Regions from separate parts of the Homo sapiens genome. Here region 1 is linked to region 2. Evidence: fine-mapped expression QTL. Tissue or cell type: whole blood. Region 2 holds a variant in brackets; the other region holds the start of a gene. All regions are shown on one strand. Distances are from middle to middle. Region 1 holds the start of ARPIN (actin related protein 2/3 complex inhibitor). Region 2 has its middle 31 kb from the start of ARPIN-AP3S2.

Evidence for each region. PIP is the estimated chance that this variant, and not a neighbour inherited with it, causes the effect.
Region 1: ARPIN starts here. The variant in region 2 is the best candidate, but not a certain one, in a credible set for the expression of ARPIN in whole blood (INTERVAL, PIP 0.68).

The regions. Positions count from the first base shown.
Region 1 is chr15:89,910,931-89,915,323 of GRCh38, forward strand. It overlaps ARPIN (actin related protein 2/3 complex inhibitor), which reads right to left and starts at 2,022. Exons shown (of 6, transcript NM_182616.4): 1 at 1,814-2,022. The coding sequence starts at 1,905. It overlaps ARPIN-AP3S2 (ARPIN-AP3S2 readthrough), which reads right to left and starts at 2,022. Exons shown (of 10, transcript NM_001199058.2): 1 at 1,814-2,022. The coding sequence starts at 1,905.
Region 2 is chr15:89,942,087-89,946,479 of GRCh38, forward strand. No RefSeq gene overlaps it. Among named protein-coding and RNA genes, the nearest start is that of ARPIN-AP3S2, 31 kb to the left of the region's middle. The variant T/C (reference allele first, on the strand shown) is at 2,559.

The DNA.
Region 1 (4,393 bases), 31 kb before region 2:
TCCCCGTGCTTCCGACATAGGGATCTCCAAAGGGTCCCAAAGGCTGGGGCATTGCCCAGATGCCAGGAGGAACCTTGTCAGGCTGCCCTAAGATCAAGCTATGGCCCCCTCCTACAAGGCCACTGGGAGTTACTGGAACCAGAGCCTCAGTCTTATCTACAAAATGGGGAGGAAAACAGCTGCCTCACTCTGCTCCTCTGATGTTGACACAAGATCATGTGTGTGAAGGTGTTTTGTAAGCTATTAAGTGATTACTAAATACAAAAGATTTTACTTTTTTATTGGTCCAAATGTGAGGGTAGGTATCTAAGCTGCAATAAACTATTTTCCCTTTCCACCTGTTTTTAAACACTCTCATATTCCTTTTCTCATTCATATCCAGGTGGTCATTAACCCGAGGAAATGGTTATTACTGAGAGGTGAAGAAACCAAAACTCAGAAGTCTGAGACTAGTCCAAGATCACACGGTCCTTCACTGAGGGGAAGTGGACCCCTGGCTTCTCGACTCTGGTTTTCATAAAAGCAGAACGTGGAGGCTTCCTTTTTTGCATCCACAGAAATGGAGAAGCATGGGGACAGCTGAAGATGACAGTGGAATAGGGATGGGAGTGGGAAGTGAAAACTCTACCTAGCTGGTCTCTATCCAATTCTTCCCCACCCCCCACAATTATTTTTCTAAATATTTAACTGACAAAAGACTGTATATATTCAAGGTGCACAACGTGATGATTTAAGTACACACTATGTAATGATTACCACAGATTAATGAACACACCCACCAGACCCCATGCTGTACATTAGGTCCCCAGAAATTGTTTATTCTATAACTGAAAGTTTGTACCTTTGATCATTACCCCATCCCCATCCACTATCCCCTGGCAATCACTGTTCACTGTTCTACTGTTTCTTTTCTTTTGACACAGTCTTGCTCCATCGCCCAGGATGGAGTGCAGTGGCACAATCTCGGCTCACTGCAACCTCCACCTCCCAGGTTCAAGCGATTCTCATGCCTCAGCCTCCCAAATAGCTGGGATTACAGGTATCTGCCACCACGCCCGACTAATTTTTGTATTTTTAGTACAGACAGGGTTTCACCATTAGGCTGGTCTCAAACTCCTAACCTCAAGTGATCCACCCGCCTCGGCCTCCCAAAGTGCTGGGATTACAGGCGTGAACCACAGCGCCTGGTCTGTTCTGCCGTTTCTATGGTTCAACGCTTTTATAGGTTCCATATACGAGATCACACAGTATTTGTCTTTCTGTATCTGGCTTATTTCACTTAGCACAATTCTTCAGCGCAGTTGTAAATGGAATGGTCCCTTCGGCCTCATAACCCTGTGACGACAGGGCCTGGCCCTCCAAATCCTCCTCACCCAGGCAGGCCCTGCTCTGGACCAGCCCGCCCGCTGTTCCCGCCACAGCACGGCCACTGTCCCTTCTGGGGCAGGGCATGAGTCTGTGCAAAAGCAGCGCGGCAAGTAGCTGGAGTTTATAGTTACGCGGGTGGGGTGGGGCCGGAGGTCGGCGTGAGGCGAAGCCCAGCCTTCGGAGACCTGTCTGGGGGTCGGGACCCTCTCTCGAGGGCAGGCGGACAGGCGGGGAGCTTTAAGCCGATCTGTGTCATGGGGTCGCTGGGCGGGCGCGGCGGCAGGGGCGCCGGGAGCGGCGGACTGGAGGGGCGGACTGAAGGCGGAGAGGCGGCTTTGGCAACCCCAGTTTTCCCCCACCCGCATCCCACCCCCCCACCCGATCCTGTTGCGGGGTTCGAGCCGGGGCAGGGGAGGCCGACCCGAGGCCGTGAGCCCAGGCCTACCCCTGGTGGGCGGCGGGGTCCCAGGCCCCTGGCAGCCGGACGCTCTGCACCGCCTTGTTCCGGAGCGCGCCGTCGTGGTAGATGCGGCTCATTCTCCCGACCGCCCGGGCACCCCGGCACAGAGCCGGCGCACTGGGCTGGGGGCGCGGCGCGGGAAGTGCTGCAGGACGCGCGGGGACCCGCGATTCCCAGCCGGCGGATCCGGGAATGGCGCGGCCCGGCCCTCAGGCGTTCCTCGGCGGGATTTAAAGGGACCGAGCTCCATTCCTGCACGCCAGGCCGCGCGCGGCAGGAGTTGGGCTTCCGGGAGGACCCTGGCTGGGGGCTTAGCACAGTGGGGCAGAAAGGCCATGCTTTTCTCTTGTCTCTCTCTCTTCCTCATTCCTAGAGGAAGATCCCTGCCCCAGCACACGCACAAAAGGGAAATTGAGGCCCCAAGATCCTATTATAGAAGATCCTTTGTAGGATCAGCCCGGGAAGGATGGGTTTCTGGGAAGCAGGAATGGAGAACAGCCACTGGGGAGGATTGGGTGGTCAGCTTAGAAGCTGTCCATTATGCCCCGCCCGCGGCCCTACAATGGCTGAGTCAGGTATCCCAGGGATCTGTGACGAGGGAGCTGGGGCATGGGTGTCGGACCAAAGACGCCTAAGTTTGAATCCCAGCTGTGAGCTTGGGCAAGCTCCTCAACCTCTCTGAGCCCATGCTTCTTCGTCTGTAAAATGGGGTCAGTATCAGGGGGATTGTAAAGTTTAATGAGCTCACCCTTTCTACAACATAGCATTGCCCTCCCTCCTTCTTCCTGCACAGCTCCTGAACTCCTCCCTGGCCCCACAATGCCCTTTGCCCAAGTATGTCATAGTCCGCAGGTGCATTTTCCAAGCCTGGTACAGAAGATTCTTCTGACCCTGGGATTGTTGAGGAATCTTTGTTCTTTTGTTTGGCTTCTTCGTGCCAGGCCTCGGGGCAGGTGGGCCCATTCAGGGAGGCCAGGTGTACCCCGGGAGAGGGGGCGGCATTTAAAGGGGGTGGTGGCCAGGCAGGTGCCTAGGAGTCTAGCATGAGCTGTCAATGTTGGAAGAAGAAAGCACCCTCTCCCTTCCCTGCTACACACACACACACACACACACACACACACACACACACACAGACAATGACTTTCTTGGGTCCTAGGCACTTTTGTTTTCAAAGGACCCTTTCTCCATTAAAAATTTTTTAAAAAATTATTATCTTACCACTGGGTTGGCATAAAGATGAATATATGAATTATATATATATATATATATTTTTTTTTTTTTTTTTTTGAGACAGTCTTCCTATGTTGCCCAGGCTGGAGTGCAGTGGTGAATCTTGGCTCACTGTAACCTCTGCCTCCCAGGTTCTAGTGATTCTCCTGCCTCAGCCTCCTGAGTAGCTGGGATTACAGGCACTCACCACCACACCCGACTAATTTTTGTATTTTTAGTAGAGATGGGGTTTCACCATGTTGGCCAGGCTGGTCTCAAGCTCCTGACTTCATGTCACCACCTGCCTCTGCCTCCCAAAGTGCTAGGATTACAGGCCTGAGCCACTGCTCCCAGTCTAAAGTGTTTTCTTCAACCTAAACATATATTTTTTTTTCTGCATCCAATCATCCATTACTAAACATATTTTTAGGAAGAAAGAGCACCTGTAGTCCCAGCTACTCAGGAGGCTGAAGTGGGAGGATCACTTGAGCCCAGGAGTTTGAGTCCAGCCTAGGCAACATAGCGAAACCCTGTCTATTAAAAAAAATTAATGAAATTAAATTTAAATTTTAAAAGAATAAAAACATTTTGTGGACCGCTAAAAGTATGATGGGCCTAATGGATGAGTCAGCCCCACTCCTAGCTGGCCTACCTGGCTGCCCGGTGTATGTCTGAGAAGGAAAAACATAGAAAAGCCCTACTGGAAAGCCCCTCTGGGTAGAACTGTCCTTTGGCCCTCTCTGCTCAAAACCCTCCAGCTGCTCACAGCCACCTGGCTGGCATGTCCTCCTCCTCTTTCCCTTTTCTGTGTCACGTTCCCCCTCACTGTGGCTCCAACTGCACAGCCATCCATGGTAGCCACTAGCCACATGTGGCTACTTAAATTTCGATTCTAACTGATTAAACCTAAATTAAATGTAAAACTCAATTCCTCACTTTCACTAGCCACATTTTTAAGTGCTCAATAGCAACGTGTGTTTAGCGACTACAAGACACAGAACATTTCTTTGTTGCAGAAAGTTGTATTGGACAGGGCTGCTCTAAATCCTCTCAGGAAGAGTCATCTGCTTATTAGGCTCTGCAACTTCACCCCATCGGCACAATCTGCAGGCCAGGCACCAGCAAGACAGAGGAACCCAAAAGAAGAAAAGGAAAATTTTTGGAAAGGTTTTGACATTTATTTCCTAAAAAGCATCAATCATCACGGGAAAAAACCCCAGAATTTTGTTGGACTTTCTTCCATGTATTTTGCAGTTTAATAATGTCTCTATATTAAATTATAAACCACAAGGTACCATGGAGACAGTATCAAGTTATCTTCGATTAACACCATTCAACATTTGATTCCTACACTAA
Region 2 (4,393 bases):
GGCTCAAGCGATCCTCCCACTTCAGCCTCCTGAGTAGCTGGGACTACAGGTGCACACCACCCTGCTCAGCTAATTTTTGTATTTTTTGTAGAGACAGGAATTTTGCCTTGCTGCCCAGGCTGGTCTTGAACTCCTGAGCTCAAACGACCCACTGGGCTCGGCCTCCGAAAGTGCTGGGATTACAGGAAGGAGCCACAGCGCCCAGCCATATTTTGTTTTAAGCCACTAAATATTGATAATTTTTTGTTTTGTTTTGTTTTTGTTTGAGACAGAGTCTGACTCTGTCGCCTAGGCTGGAGTGCAGTGGCGCGATCTCAGCTCACTGCAACCTCCAACTCCCTAGTTCAAGTGATTCTCCTGCCTCAGCCTCCTGAGTAGCTGAGATTACAGGCACGTGCCACCACGCCCAGTTAATTTTTGTACTTTTAATAGAGATGGGGCTTCACCATGTTGGCCAGGATGGTCTCGATCTCCTGACCTTGTGATCCGCCCGCCTCAGCCTCCCAAAGTGCTGGGATGACAGGCATGAGCCACCATCCCTGGCCAAATATTGATAATTTTTAATGCAGCAATTGATAAGACAGAATCCAAGAGGGAGATGTGAGATATAAGGAGTGGTGGGTAAAGAAGCCAGTAAAACTTTTTGATGTCCAAGAAGGTGTGGATTAAAAATAAACAAAACAAAACTCTGCAATGGGAATCTCTGATTATTTCAACATGGGAGGTGGGAAGAGGAGAATAAATGAAAGAGGGAAGAAAGAGAGTAAAAGATTTCTTGTTTTATTTGAAGGTACGATATAGATTCTTATTAAAATCTAGAGGTTGATATATAAATACATTGTAAATATTTATTTATTTATTTATTTATTTATTGAGACCGAATCTTGCTCTGTCACCCAGGCTGGAGTGCAATGGTGCAATCTTGGCTCACTGCAACCTCTGCCTCCCAGGTTCAAGCGATTCTCCTGCCTTAGCCTCCCAAATTGCTGGGACTACAGGCGTAAACCACCACGCCCAGCTAATTTTTGGGTATTCAGTAGAGACGGGGTTTCACCGTGTTGGCCAGGCTGGTCTCAAATTTGTGACCTCAAGTGATCCGCCTGCCTCAGCCTCCCAAAGTGCTGAGATTACAGGCGTGAGCCACCGCACCCAGCCAATTGTAAATATTTACATAAAAATTTCAGGGTAGAGAACTTCCTGAAAAAACAATTAAATTATGGTAAAGTATTGTTTAAGAGACATATACCCATAAAGAAGTGGAGAATGGTGGAGAGGACAATAGTAAGACAATAAATAGATGGACGGCTGGTAAATGATGCAGCATACCCAGGAAGACTGAGTCCTAGAGCAGGAGTTGGAGGCAGATATACTGCAAAGAAAGGATACCATAGAAAAGGAACATTCAGGAATTTTCTGAAGATGAGTTTTTGGAAATTAAAAACATGACGGTAGAAATGAAAAGTTGGAATTGAAGTGGAGGAAATCTCCCAGAAAATAGAGCAAAGAGACAGAGACAAAGAGATGGAAAATAGAAGAGAAAATAGAAAATAAAATCAAGCCTGGCATGGTAGCTCACACCTGTAATCCCAGCACTTCAGGAGGCCAAGGCGGGCAAATCACCTGAGGTCAGGAGTTCAAGACCAGCATGGCCAACATGGTGAAACTCCGTCTCTACTAAAAATACAAAAACTAGCTGGGTGTGGTGGCACATGCCTGTAATCCCAGTTACTCAAGAGGCTGAGGCAGGAGAATCACTTGAACCTGGGAGGTAGAGGTTGCAGTGGGCTGAGATCACCACTGAGATCACACCACTGCACTCCAGCCTGGGCGGCAGAGTGAGACGCCATCTCAAAAAAAAAACAAAAAAAATTAGCCAGGCATAACGGCACACACCTGTAGTCCCAGCTACTTGGAAGGCTGAGGCAGGAGAATCATTTGAACCTGGGAGGCAGAGGCTGCAGTGGGCCGAGATCGTGTCATTGCACTCCAGCCTGGGCAACAGAGCAAGACTTTGCCAAAAAAAAAAAAAAAAAAAAAAAAAATCAATACAGGAGGTCCACTGGTCAAATAATAAGCAGTTAAGAAAGAAGAAACAGAGAAAGTGGAGGTGGGGAAGTTTATTTTCAAAGCAATTTAATTTGATAAAAATTTCCAGAATTTTTACCATGATGCGCAGCACTGCTATGAAGTCTGTGTAGTTAAGAACACATTATCATTGTTCAGCTCATGCTTTATCTCTTTCGTTTTGTTTACTTTGATTTGCTTATGTGTGCATTTATGCATGCATTTATTTATATAATGAACCCTCATTTGAATCCACAGCCCAACTAGCCAATAATATCCATGGGCTTCTTGCCTTTCCCATCTCCCAGCCTCCCCCAACTAAAGATAACCACCATCCTAAATTTGGTGTTTCTTCTTCTTCTTCTTTTTTTTTTTTTTTTTTTTTTTAAGTATTTCATTTTATGAGTCAGGGTCTCACTCTGTCACACACACTGGAATTCAGTGGTGTGATCATAGCTCACTGCAGCCTCCACCTCCTGGGCTTAAGCAATCCT[T/C]CCACCTCAGCCTCCAGAGTAGCTGGGACTACAGGTGTGCACCACCACGCACAGCTAATTTAAAAAAATTTTTTTTGGTAGGAAGGAATCTTGCTATATTGCCCAGACTGATCTTGAAATCATGGCCTTAAGTGAGACACAGCATCAGGCCCTTTTGGTTTTTAAAAACAGCTTCATCACATTTATAGGGGCCTGAACAATGAATTGTTTCCTTTCACTTGGTTTAGAATGTTATAAAAAGGGTATCACTCTGTGTGGTCACCTGAGACATGCTTTTTCCACTCATTATGATACCATCCAGATTCATACTTGCTGTTCCCTGGTTCTTTAATTCATTCACTTTCAAAGCTGTATAATATTCCATTGTGCAAATGTACCAAAATGTATTCATTCATTCTCCTACCAGTTTGGGAGAATTGGGAAGGTGCATGTGTGTGTGCGTATGTGTGTGAATGTGTACTGATAGTGAAAGAGTTCAGTCTTCATCCTCTATGGTTGAAAATCAACAGATGATAACTAAAATTGAAAATGATCAAGAAGTAGCAATATATGTGTAATATTTAGAGATAAAGGAGTAAATATGAGAAGAATCATCAAAAGGAATAAGAGGCCTATGCCGGGTGCAGTGGCTCACGCCTGTAATCCCAGCACTTTGGGAGGCCGAGGCGGGCGGATTCCCTGAGCTCAGGAGTTTGAGACCAGCCTGGGCAACATGGTGAAACCCCGTCTCTACTAAAATACAAAAGATTAGCCAGGCGTAGCAGCGCATGCCTGTAATCCCAGCCACTTGGGAGGCTGAGGCAGGAGAATTGCTGGAACCCAGAGGTGGAGGTTGCATTGAGCCGAGATGGCGCCACTGCACTCCAGCCTCGGCGACAAGAGCAAGACTCTGTCTCAAAAAAAAAAAAAGAGGCCGCGCACGGTGGCTTACGCCTATAATCTTAGCCCTTTGGGAGGCCGAGACGGATGGATCACTGAAGGTCAGGAGGTCAAGACCAGCCTGGCCAACATGGCGAAACCCCATCTCTACTAAAAATACAAAAATTAGCCGGGCGTGGTGGCGAGTGCCTGTAATCCCGACTACTCAAGAGGCTGAGGCAGGATAATTGCTTGAACCTGGGAGGCAGACGTTGCAGTGCACTGAGATCGTGCCACTGCGCTCCAACCTGGGTGACAGAGTGAGACTCCGTCTCAAAATAAAAAAAAAAAAAAAGAAAAAAAGGAATAAGAGTGATTTCCTCTGGGGAGAAGGAGATGGTAGAGGGAGGATGGAGATTTCTGTTTCTCATAACAAGACTAATTCGATGATTTGGCTGTTCCACTAAGCTCATGCATAACATTGAAAAATTAAGGATAACTAGCAGAATAACAAAAATAGCATACATAACTTGCAAACCACAACTGCAAAAAAAAAATGGGACAAAGAAAATGTGATAAATTCAGCAGATGATACGAAAAGAAACAAGAAAAATAATCCTTAAAAACAATTATTTTTGGCGGGGCGCGGCTGCACATGCCTGTAATCCCAGCACTTTGTGAGGCTGATGGGGGAGGATCACTTGAGGTCAGGACTTTGAGACCAGCCTGGCCAACATGGTGAAACCCTGCCTCTACTAAAAAACAAAAATTAGCTGGGCGTGGTGGCACGCGCCTATAGTCCCAGCTACTCAGGAGGCTGAGACAGAAGAATTGCTCAGAACCGGGAGGCGGAGGTTGCAGTGAGCCGAGATTGTGTTACTGCACTCCAGCCTGGTGACAGAGCGAGACTCCATCTCAAAAAATAAAATAATAATAAATTAGCTGGGCGTGGTGGCCCATGCCTGTAATCCTAGATA